Homo sapiens: one gene and its partners. The protein of the gene in region 2 purifies or fractionates together with the protein of the main gene of each other region. This does not show direct contact. Each region holds a gene or a part of one and is shown on either strand. Other genes may lie near its edges. The genes, in order: TMEM63B, NKAIN1 and LRRC8D.

What was found.
Region 1: the proteins of NKAIN1 (region 2) and TMEM63B purify together in Homo sapiens (affinity purification with mass spectrometry; one large-scale study listed by BioGRID and IntAct). This does not show direct contact.
Region 3: the proteins of NKAIN1 (region 2) and LRRC8D purify together in Homo sapiens (affinity purification with mass spectrometry; one large-scale study listed by BioGRID and IntAct). This does not show direct contact.

What each region holds. Positions count from the first base shown.
Region 1 is NC_000006.12:44,134,042-44,137,692, forward strand, and holds part of TMEM63B (mechanosensitive cation channel TMEM63B), read left to right. Parts: intron 1-378; exon of another isoform or gene 379-519; coding exon of another isoform or gene 520-543; coding exon 544-702; intron 703-975; coding exon 976-1,055; intron 1,056-1,286; coding exon 1,287-1,325; intron 1,326-2,307; coding exon 2,308-2,398; intron 2,399-3,651. UniProt on the Homo sapiens protein: Mechanosensitive cation channel with low conductance and high activation threshold. Osmosensitive cation channel preferentially activated by hypotonic stress.
Region 2 is NC_000001.11:31,229,781-31,233,431, forward strand, and holds part of NKAIN1 (sodium/potassium-transporting ATPase subunit beta-1-interacting protein 1 precursor), read right to left. Parts: intron 1-3,651.
Region 3 is NC_000001.11:89,932,523-89,936,173, forward strand, and holds part of LRRC8D (volume-regulated anion channel subunit LRRC8D), read left to right. Parts: intron 1-544; 5' UTR 545-546; coding exon 547-3,123; 3' UTR 3,124-3,651. UniProt on the Homo sapiens protein: Non-essential component of the volume-regulated anion channel (VRAC, also named VSOAC channel), an anion channel required to maintain a constant cell volume in response to extracellular or intracellular osmotic changes.

The DNA of each region.
Region 1 (3,651 bases), on a different chromosome or scaffold from region 2:
CCAAATGAAATCATGCCATTTTTTCTAATAGGCATAGAAAGAAAAGATCAGGATGAGGCAGCTGGCTCCTGACCCATTCTCCCCTGACGTGGAGACCCCTCATCTTACCCTTGAGTCCTCAGGCCTAAGACCCCTCCCTGTCTTCCCAGGCTCAGCTCCGCCCCCTGCCCTAAGACAGAGAGAATGAGAGTGTGGGGGTGGCGGCGGCAGGGGGGATTTAGATAGATGTTAGAAAATCACAGATACCTTCCAGCTTAATGAAACCAGCCTCCCCAGTCCAGGCCTGGCATCTAGACTGAGTTCCCCAGACCCAGGGTGGGGTCATAGCCAGAGAGCCAGTGAAGGTAAATCCATGTGACTCAACTCTCCCCTCCCTAGGCCCTTATCTCCAGAGGCCAGAGCTTCCATCCACCCAGGCAGCCTGGTGATCTGTCCTCACTGCCCCCTCCCCACGCCCACCCTACTGGGCCATGAAGGGGATGGGGGCAAGCCCAGCTGACTGCTCCACCCTCTGCCCAGGAGGACCATGCGGCAGTAGCAGCCATGCTGCCCTTTCTGCTGGCCACACTGGGCACCACAGCCCTCAACAACAGCAACCCCAAGGACTACTGCTACAGCGCCCGCATCCGCAGCACTGTCCTGCAGGGCCTGCCCTTTGGGGGCGTCCCCACCGTGCTGGCTCTCGACTTCATGTGCTTCCTTGTAAGTGCCTGCTGCCACCCCTTACCTTGGCATCCATGCCCTGTACACACCTGGCAAACACTTCCAGCTCTAACCACTCTCCCACCTGCCCCGGTTTCCCAGGCTTAAGCAGGAGGAGTCCCCATCATCCAGCCCAAGCCTCGCCTTTGACCATTCACCCAAGCCAGGGTCATCCCCTTCTAAGACAAGATTTTGGACCCTCTGCTTCTGCCCCCTAGTCCAGCAGGTGGACAGACAGCCTCTGCACTTGCCAACTGCCCCCTCTTCCCTCAGGCACTGCTGTTCTTATTCTCTATCCTCCGGAAGGTGGCCTGGGACTATGGGCGGCTGGCCTTGGTGACAGATGCAGACAGGTAAGGGTCTGGGACCCTCCCTCTAGCTCTCCACACACACATCTTGTTCCACACTCCTCAGGAATAGGAAGGAGCCAGCCCTCTCTCATTCCCCTTTGCTGGGGGGATGAGAAGGGACTAGCCCCAATGTGGGCATGGGGGCATGAGGGCCCTAAGTTGGGCCCCTGTTCCTCACCTGTCCCCAGGGACTCTCCCCCGCCCCTGCTAACCCTGTCTGTTCTCTGTCCCCAGGCTTCGGCGGCAGGAGAGGGACCGAGTGGAACAGGAATAGTATGTGGGGCACCAGCCCCCTCATTCCCACTAAACCAGCTTTCCCTTTTCTTCTCTCACGCTTCTCTTCTCTTCCTGCCAAGTTGCTGGTTTCTTTTTGCAGTTTTCTCCTCTGCAGGCTCATGTTTCGGATTAACGCAGGCGGTGTGCTTTGCAGAGCAGGGGGCTCCCCAGCTTGTCTCTGCCTCACCTCCCCTTCATCTCTCCCTCTGGCTCCCTGCCTGGGAGAAGTCCCTCCCTGTGTGCCCCTGCCTATGCAGCCCTTGTTGGCTGGAGGGGAGGGGCTGTCCTCCAGGAAATCCTCAGCACAATCACGTAGAGACAAGATTGGGTGTCACCAGCAGCTTCTTGTCCGCTAACAGCTAGTTCTTCATATTCCAGGGTTCCCTGCTCACCTCTTCTGGAGGCCTGGGAGGAGGGCTGCCCAAGGAGCCCCCCAGTCTGGGCTTTTTTGTCACTTTGTCATCTCTGTCTATAGGATTGGAGTTGGAGTTGTAACAGCTGTTGGAGTCAGGGAAGAGGGAGGGGAGCGGAGGGTAGGGTCCCACCCAGGAGACCTTCCAGTCTCCCCAGCCCTTCCAGGTTCTCCTGGTCCATCCTTTCCTCCACCTCCTCATTGCTCTTTGCATAATGTTGGCTCCGTTGCCCGCCCCCGGCCCCTGCCAGTCAACTCTGGAACTGCAGGGCCCTCTGGCATTCTCGCTTCAGCCTCCTTAGGGAGATGATGAAGATTACCTCCTCCCTCAAGTCCCCACTGCCCACCATCAGTGCCCACCTCCGCTCCCACCCTGAGTCCCCCTGAAAGGAAGAGGCATATTTGAGGGAAGCAGGGTAGAGGGCAGTCATTCCTCTCTGCTTCAGCCTCTGCGCTTCCTGTGCCTTCTGTGCCTTCTGTAGCCCTGGAGCTCTGGAGCACTCAGCCCAGCTTCCCGGGGGCTCAGACTCACCAGGCTCTCTGATCTCTCATCTCCCTCACCCCCAGTGTGGCTTCAGCTATGCACGGGGACAGCCATGACCGGTATGAGCGTCTCACCTCTGTCTCCAGCTCCGTTGACTTTGACCAAAGGGACAATGTGAGTGCCCTCCCCCCAAACTTCTTAGTCCCCCACCCCACCCCCAGGGCACATGGGCTGAGAAGTCCCTCACTTTCAGTGATGTGGAGTCAGGGATGCTGGTTTGGCCTCCTCCTCAGCAAAGAAAGTGATTCAACCAAGGAGCCACAGGATGACCCCCCAGGCCCTGAACTCCTGGCTGCTGTCCTCTATGTCACAGTCTCCAAACTAGCACAGCCTTAACATTCATGAATTCCCAACTTTGTTTGCCATAAAGAGTTTTGTGCCCACTTCTGCTGATTAATCCTAAGGCCACCTTTTTTCCGTAGTCATGGTTTTAGAAATAATAATAAGCCCTTGGCTCACGCCTGTAATCCCAGCACTTTGGGAGGCCGAGGCGGGAGGATCACGAGGTCACTAGATGAGACCATCCTGGCTAACACGGTGAAACCCCGTCTCTACTAAAAATACAAAAAATTAGCCAGGCGTGGTGGTGGGCGCCTGTAGTCCCAGCTACTTGGGAGGCTGAGGCAGGAGAATGGCGTGAACGCGGGAGGCGGAGCTTGCAGTGAGCTGAGATGGCGCCACTGCACTCTAGCCTGGGTGACAGAGCGAGACTCCATCTCAAAACAAACAAAAAAAAGAAATAATAAGCCCTCCAGCCCTGCCTAGAAAAACAGAATCTGTCATGTTGCTCGGAGGTTGCAGGTGGGTGGCCCCTGGCCATGTGGGGCCGGTTGACCTGCTTGTGGATTGGAGCTGAGTGGCAGTGGTCCCTTTTAACAAGGCATATGAATGGCAATTCATAACAGACTCCAGACCCCTTTCATATCAGACCTAACACACAGGTGTTACCTGCCTGGCTCTCCATCATTAATTCCATGAGGGTAAGGAGCCTAGTCAGAACTCTAATCCTCAGACATGGTGTGGCCCTGGTCAGTCCCTCTTGGGCTGCAAGTCCTAGGGGTGGCAGCTCTTCCAGCAATTCCAGCAGAAGATGGCCTTCAGCTTCCTGAGTTGGACTCATACTGGTAGGTGGCAAAGTTGTCACATCTGCTAGCCAGAAGTGTCCAGATGGTCCCCAGACTCAGGTGATGTTGGCAACAGGTAGCATGGTCCTGAATCACGGCCGAAAGGCACCTTTCTACCCCATCCTGTGTTATGTCTGGACCTTCTGCTGGATGGAGTTTGGGGCAGGGTGCCCTCTGCGCAGCCCTCCCCTGAATATCCCCATTCTCTGCCTTTACATGCCTGGAGGGTGGAGGGGAGAGATT
Region 2 (3,651 bases):
GGGCCAGGCAGCACCTCTTACCTCCACCTGGGAAGAGAAGGAGCTCATTACTGACTCAGAGCTGGAAGGGTCCTTTGAGATGATGAGTCCAACCTTTTCCCCATACAGAGCAAGAGAGAGGCCCAAAGAGGCCACGCCTTCATCTTGGAACCCCTCTTAGTGAGTGGCAGCCTGTGCCCACGGCTCTCCCTGCATTATCTCAGGTTGCCCTCATTATAGTCCTATGAGGTGGGTGCTATTATTATTCCCATTTTACAGAAGAGAAGACCACGGTCCAGCAATGCCAAGACCACACAGATGAAGAAGAACTGCTGCTCCAGCTTGAGCCTTCCATTCATTGAGAAAGGGGAGTCATCTCATTTCCTACCCCACAGTACTCGGATTGCAGAACCTGCAGCCTCATATCCTGGGCATTCAAGAGTGTACCCCCTTTGTGAGCTCCCACTCCACACGTTTTATTTCAAAGGAGCCTCCCAACAACTCTCTGAAGTAGATGATCATTATCCTGATTTAGAGAAGTGCAAGTGGAAGCTCAGAGAGGTTAGGTGTCTTCTTGCTCAAGGTCATCCAGCTACAAAGAGGCAAAGCTGGAACTCAAATCCCAGCCTGACCCCAAAGCCCGGGTTCTTCCCAGTTCCCAGTCCACCTCCTTGTCTCTGGATTTGTCAGCTGCTTTGAGAGGGGCCAGGAGGCCAATGTAAATCAGGAAAACCTGCAACCACACTTAACGGCTCTTCTAAAACCTTACTGCTCATTCAGTGCCTCTAGGGGAAGTTTGCTTTGCTCTCTGAAGCTCTCCCTCATCTGTGAATCAATCGACATCCCTCTCCAGGCCAGGGCAGGGAAAGCCAGGCAAAGCACTGGGACTTGGCTTCCTGGGCCTAAACCCAGCTCTCCCCCCATGGCCTGGATCTAGTGTTCAATTTAAAAAATGTTTTTAATTTTTAATTTTTGTGGGTTACATAGTAGGTATATATATTTAGGGGGCACATGAGATATTTTGATATAGGCATCCACTGTGCAATCGTCACATCAGGGTAAATCAAGCATTTATCCTTTCTTTGTGTTACAAATAATCCAATCATACTCTTTGGGTTATTTTTTTTTTTTTTTTTTTTTGAGACGGAGTTTTGCTCTTGTTGCCCAGGCCGGAGTGTAGTGGCACGATCTTGGCTCACTGCAACCTCCGCCTCCCAGGTTCAAGTGATTCTCCTGTCTTAGCCTCCTGAGTAGCTGGGATTACAGGTGCCCGCCACCATGCCCAGCTAATTTTTTGTATTTTTAGTACAAATGGGGTTTCACCACGTTGGCCAGGCTGGTCTCAAACTCCTGACCTCAAGTGATCCACCCGCCTCGGCCTCCCAGAGTGCTGGGATTACAGGTGTAAGCCACTGCACCATCCAGTTATTTTTAAATGTACAGTAAATTTCGTTGACTGTAGTCACACTGTTGTGCTATCAAAGACAAGATTTATTCATCCTATCTAACCATGTTTTTATACAACCTCCCCACTCCCCGACTACCTTTCCCAGCCTCTGGTAATCCTTATTCTACTTTTTTTTTTTTTTTTTTTAATAGATGCAGGGTCTTGCCATGTTACCCAGGCTGGTCTCCAACTCCTGAGCTCAAGCAGTCCACCCACCTTGGCCTCCCAAAGTGCTGGGATTACAGGCGTGACCCACAGTGCCCAACCTCCTCATTCTACGCACTATCTCCATGAGTTCAATTGTTTTTGTTGTTGTTTGTTGTTGTTGTTGTTGTTGTTTTTGAGACGGAGTCTCGCTCTGTCACCCAGGCTGGAGTGCAGTGGCGCCATCTCAGCTCACTGCAAGCTCCGCCTCCTGGGTTCATGCCACTGTCCTGCCTCAGCCTCCCGAGTAGCTGGAACTACAGGCGCCCGCCACCACGCCCGGCTAATTTTTTGTATTTTTAGTAGAGACAGGGTTTCACAGTGTTAGCCAGGATGGTCTCGATCTCCTGACCTTGTGATCCGCCCGCCTTGGCCTCCCAAAGTGCCGGGATTACAAGCGTGAGCCACTGCACCTGGCGAGTTCAATTGTTTTAATTTTTAGCTCACACAAATAAGTAAGAACATCTGAAGTTTGTCTCTCTGTGCCTGGCTGGAACTAGCTTTTTTTTTTTTTTTAATTTTTTTTGAGACAGGATCTCACTGTGTTGCCCAGGCTGTAGGGCAGTGGTGCAATCATGGCTCACTGCAGCCTCAAGCTCCTGGGCAAAAGCAATCCTCCCCTCTGCCTCAGTAGCTGGGACTACAGGTGCATGCTACCATGCCCAGCTAAGTTTTTACCTTTTTGTTTTTCTTTTTTTGAGACGGAGTTTCGCTCTTGTTACCCAGGCTGGAGTGCAATGGCGTGATCTTGGCTTACCACAACATCTGCCTCCCAGGTTCAAGCAATTCTCCTGCCTCAGCCTCCCGAGTAGCTGGGATTACAGGCATGAGCTACCATGCCTGGCTAATTTTGTATTTTTAGTAGAGACAGGGTTTCACCATGTTGGTCAGGCTGGTCTCGAACTCCTGACCTCAGGTGATCCACCTGTCTCAGCCTCCCAGAGTGTTGGGATTACAGGCATGAGCCACCGTGTCTGGCCTACTTCATATATATATATATATATATATATATATAGAGAGAGAGAGAGAGAGAGAGAGAGAGAGAGAGAGAGAGAGAGAGAGTGGGGGAGGTCTCACTATGTTCCCCAGGCTGGTCTCAAACTCCTGGGCTCAAGCGATCCTTCCACCTTGCCTTCCCAAAATGCTGGGATTACAGGTGTGAGCCACCGCACCTGGCCTGGAACTAGTTTTTAAAAATACACCTGTAGCCTTAGTCTGCCTTCCTGTCACCCATCTCTCCTTAATACTAGAGAAGAGTAGTTTGGGAGTCTCCTACCACATAGAATAAAAAAATACAAAATAAAAAATAAAAGGACTGACTAGAGGAGACAACATGTTCCAGTGATCAGAGCTGACTATCTCTGCTTGGTCCAGATTTTATAACAATTGTTCTCAAACCCTTTCCCCTTGATGACTACTCTGAGGCTCAGACTATTATCTCCTGTTTCCTTGGAGAGATGTCATTTTACCCTTCTGAGCCTCAGTATGTCCATCAGTTAATGGGTATAAAAACCACACCTATCTCATAGAGTTGTTATGAGGATGGATCACTTGTAGATACAGGTTACTTTATTCCCTGGTTTTCTCAATCTGTATCACAGCTCCTTGGCACACTGCAACCTCCGCCTCCCAGGTTCAAATGATTCTCTTGCCTCAGCCTCCCGAGTAGCTGAAATTACAGGTGCCCACCACCACGCTCGGCTAATTTTTTGTATTTTTAGTAGAGATGCGGTTTCACCACATTGGCCAGGCTGGTTTCGAACTCCTGATCTCAAGTGATCTGCATGCCTCGGCCTCCCAAAGTGCTGGGATTACAGGTGTGAGCTACCGCACCCAGCCGTGCATCACAGCTCTTTTAAGTCCAGCACAGAGCTTGGGGGTGGGTAGAATGGGGAGAGGGGGCATCTGTGTAAGCAGTTAGATCTGGCATCTGGTAACAAGCCCTGTGGCTGAGGAAAGGTTTGGATTTCTCCACCTGCTTCCACTCCAGCGTCCCACAATACTAGCAGGGGGCAATGGGG
Region 3 (3,651 bases), about 59 Mb from region 2:
TAATTTAACCTTTCCAACAACCCTTAGAAGTTTTCATCCCTATTATACAGATGGGAAATACACAAGGCTTAAGGAATCAACCATTAGTAAGTGTTAGAACTAAGTCTGGAACATAAGACTATCCAAAGTTTAACGGTATTTAATGGTATACACAGACCTTTCAATTTTGGCTTATACAAAATAAGAGTCATCCCACTCCTTGACCTCCAAATTTCAGTCTTAACCTTTAATGAGTCCACAACAAATGCCATCCTGCTGTCATACCCTCCTTCAAGGTCCACTAAGTAACCACTATGGACTTGGTGCAGTCTGTCATAATTTCTTACCTAGAATGCAATTCTTACTCATTCTTTCCCTCTTCCCTTGCACTAGGAGAGAAAAGCTGTATATTCCCCTTTTAGTTTATTTTCTACTACATTTATATTGGATAAAAAGATAGGACCTGAATGAGAAAACTTTAGTTAGGAGCAGGCATAGGGTTTTTCTCATTTACTCTTTTCATTTGCATCTCTAGAATAATGTCTTTTGTCTTCTTGTTTTCTAGGAATGTTTACCCTTGCGGAAGTTGCATCACTTAATGACATTCAGCCAACTTACCGAATCCTGAAACCATGGTGGGATGTGTTTATGGATTACCTAGCTGTTGTTATGTTAATGGTAGCCATCTTTGCAGGAACCATGCAACTTACCAAAGATCAGGTGGTCTGTTTGCCAGTATTGCCATCTCCTGTAAATTCAAAGGCACATACACCACCAGGAAATGCCGAGGTCACCACCAACATCCCAAAGATGGAAGCAGCCACCAACCAAGACCAAGATGGGCGGACAACAAACGACATTTCCTTTGGGACATCTGCTGTGACACCTGACATACCTCTCAGAGCCACATATCCTCGCACAGATTTCGCACTTCCAAATCAGGAGGCAAAGAAAGAGAAGAAAGATCCAACAGGTCGAAAAACAAACTTGGATTTTCAGCAATATGTATTTATTAATCAAATGTGTTACCATCTGGCCCTTCCGTGGTATTCTAAGTACTTTCCATACCTAGCTCTTATACATACTATTATTCTCATGGTCAGTAGCAACTTTTGGTTCAAATATCCCAAAACATGCTCAAAAGTAGAACATTTTGTTTCAATATTAGGAAAGTGCTTTGAATCCCCTTGGACGACAAAAGCGTTGTCTGAGACAGCATGCGAAGACTCAGAGGAAAACAAGCAGAGAATAACAGGTGCCCAGACTCTACCAAAGCATGTTTCTACCAGCAGTGATGAAGGGAGCCCCAGTGCCAGTACACCAATGATCAATAAAACTGGCTTTAAATTTTCAGCTGAGAAGCCTGTGATTGAAGTTCCCAGCATGACAATCCTGGATAAAAAGGATGGAGAGCAGGCCAAAGCCCTGTTTGAGAAAGTGAGGAAGTTCCGTGCCCATGTGGAAGATAGTGACTTGATCTATAAACTCTATGTGGTCCAAACAGTTATCAAAACAGCCAAGTTCATTTTTATTCTCTGCTATACAGCGAACTTTGTCAACGCAATCAGCTTTGAACACGTCTGCAAGCCCAAAGTTGAGCATCTGATTGGTTATGAGGTATTTGAGTGCACCCACAATATGGCTTACATGTTGAAAAAGCTTCTCATCAGTTACATATCCATTATTTGTGTTTATGGCTTTATCTGCCTCTACACTCTCTTCTGGTTATTCAGGATACCTTTGAAGGAATATTCTTTCGAAAAAGTCAGAGAAGAGAGCAGTTTTAGTGACATTCCAGATGTCAAAAACGATTTTGCGTTCCTTCTTCACATGGTAGACCAGTATGACCAGCTATATTCCAAGCGTTTTGGTGTGTTCTTGTCAGAAGTTAGTGAAAATAAACTTAGGGAAATTAGTTTGAACCATGAGTGGACATTTGAAAAACTCAGGCAGCACATTTCACGCAACGCCCAGGACAAGCAGGAGTTGCATCTGTTCATGCTGTCGGGGGTGCCCGATGCTGTCTTTGACCTCACAGACCTGGATGTGCTAAAGCTTGAACTAATTCCAGAAGCTAAAATTCCTGCTAAGATTTCTCAAATGACTAACCTCCAAGAGCTCCACCTCTGCCACTGCCCTGCAAAAGTTGAACAGACTGCTTTTAGCTTTCTTCGCGATCACTTGAGATGCCTTCACGTGAAGTTCACTGATGTGGCTGAAATTCCTGCCTGGGTGTATTTGCTCAAAAACCTTCGAGAGTTGTACTTAATAGGCAATTTGAACTCTGAAAACAATAAGATGATAGGACTTGAATCTCTCCGAGAGTTGCGGCACCTTAAGATTCTCCACGTGAAGAGCAATTTGACCAAAGTTCCCTCCAACATTACAGATGTGGCTCCACATCTTACAAAGTTAGTCATTCATAATGACGGCACTAAACTCTTGGTACTGAACAGCCTTAAGAAAATGATGAATGTCGCTGAGCTGGAACTCCAGAACTGTGAGCTAGAGAGAATCCCACATGCTATTTTCAGCCTCTCTAATTTACAGGAACTGGATTTAAAGTCCAATAACATTCGCACAATTGAGGAAATCATCAGTTTCCAGCATTTAAAACGACTGACTTGTTTAAAATTATGGCATAACAAAATTGTTACTATTCCTCCCTCTATTACCCATGTCAAAAACTTGGAGTCACTTTATTTCTCTAACAACAAGCTCGAATCCTTACCAGTGGCAGTATTTAGTTTACAGAAACTCAGATGCTTAGATGTGAGCTACAACAACATTTCAATGATTCCAATAGAAATAGGATTGCTTCAGAACCTGCAGCATTTGCATATCACTGGGAACAAAGTGGACATTCTGCCAAAACAATTGTTTAAATGCATAAAGTTGAGGACTTTGAATCTGGGACAGAACTGCATCACCTCACTCCCAGAGAAAGTTGGTCAGCTCTCCCAGCTCACTCAGCTGGAGCTGAAGGGGAACTGCTTGGACCGCCTGCCAGCCCAGCTGGGCCAGTGTCGGATGCTCAAGAAAAGCGGGCTTGTTGTGGAAGATCACCTTTTTGATACCCTGCCACTCGAAGTCAAAGAGGCATTGAATCAAGACATAAATATTCCCTTTGCAAATGGGATTTAAACTAAGATAATATATGCACAGTGATGTGCAGGAACAACTTCCTAGATTGCAAGTGCTCACGTACAAGTTATTACAAGATAATGCATTTTAGGAGTAGATACATCTTTTAAAATAAAACAGAGAGGATGCATAGAAGGCTGATAGAAGACATAACTGAATGTTCAATGTTTGTAGGGTTTTAAGTCATTCATTTCCAAATCATTTTTTTTTTTCTTTTGGGGAAAGGGAAGGAAAAATTATAATCACTAATCTTGGTTCTTTTTAAATTGTTTGTAACTTGGATGCTGCCGCTACTGAATGTTTACAAATTGCTTGCCTGCTAAAGTAAATGATTAAATTGACATTTTCTTACTATATCACCTTTTTTGAGGGGTCTTAATTTACTTTGCTTAATTGGTGCAATATTGCTTTAACTCCGTTCACTAAAGACAAACACATCAAGTCCAAACTTGTAAATTTAGATTTGCTGAAATACTGATTTATTTCCTGTTTTAATTTAAAGTGCCTCAAGTAAGCACCTCTCACAAC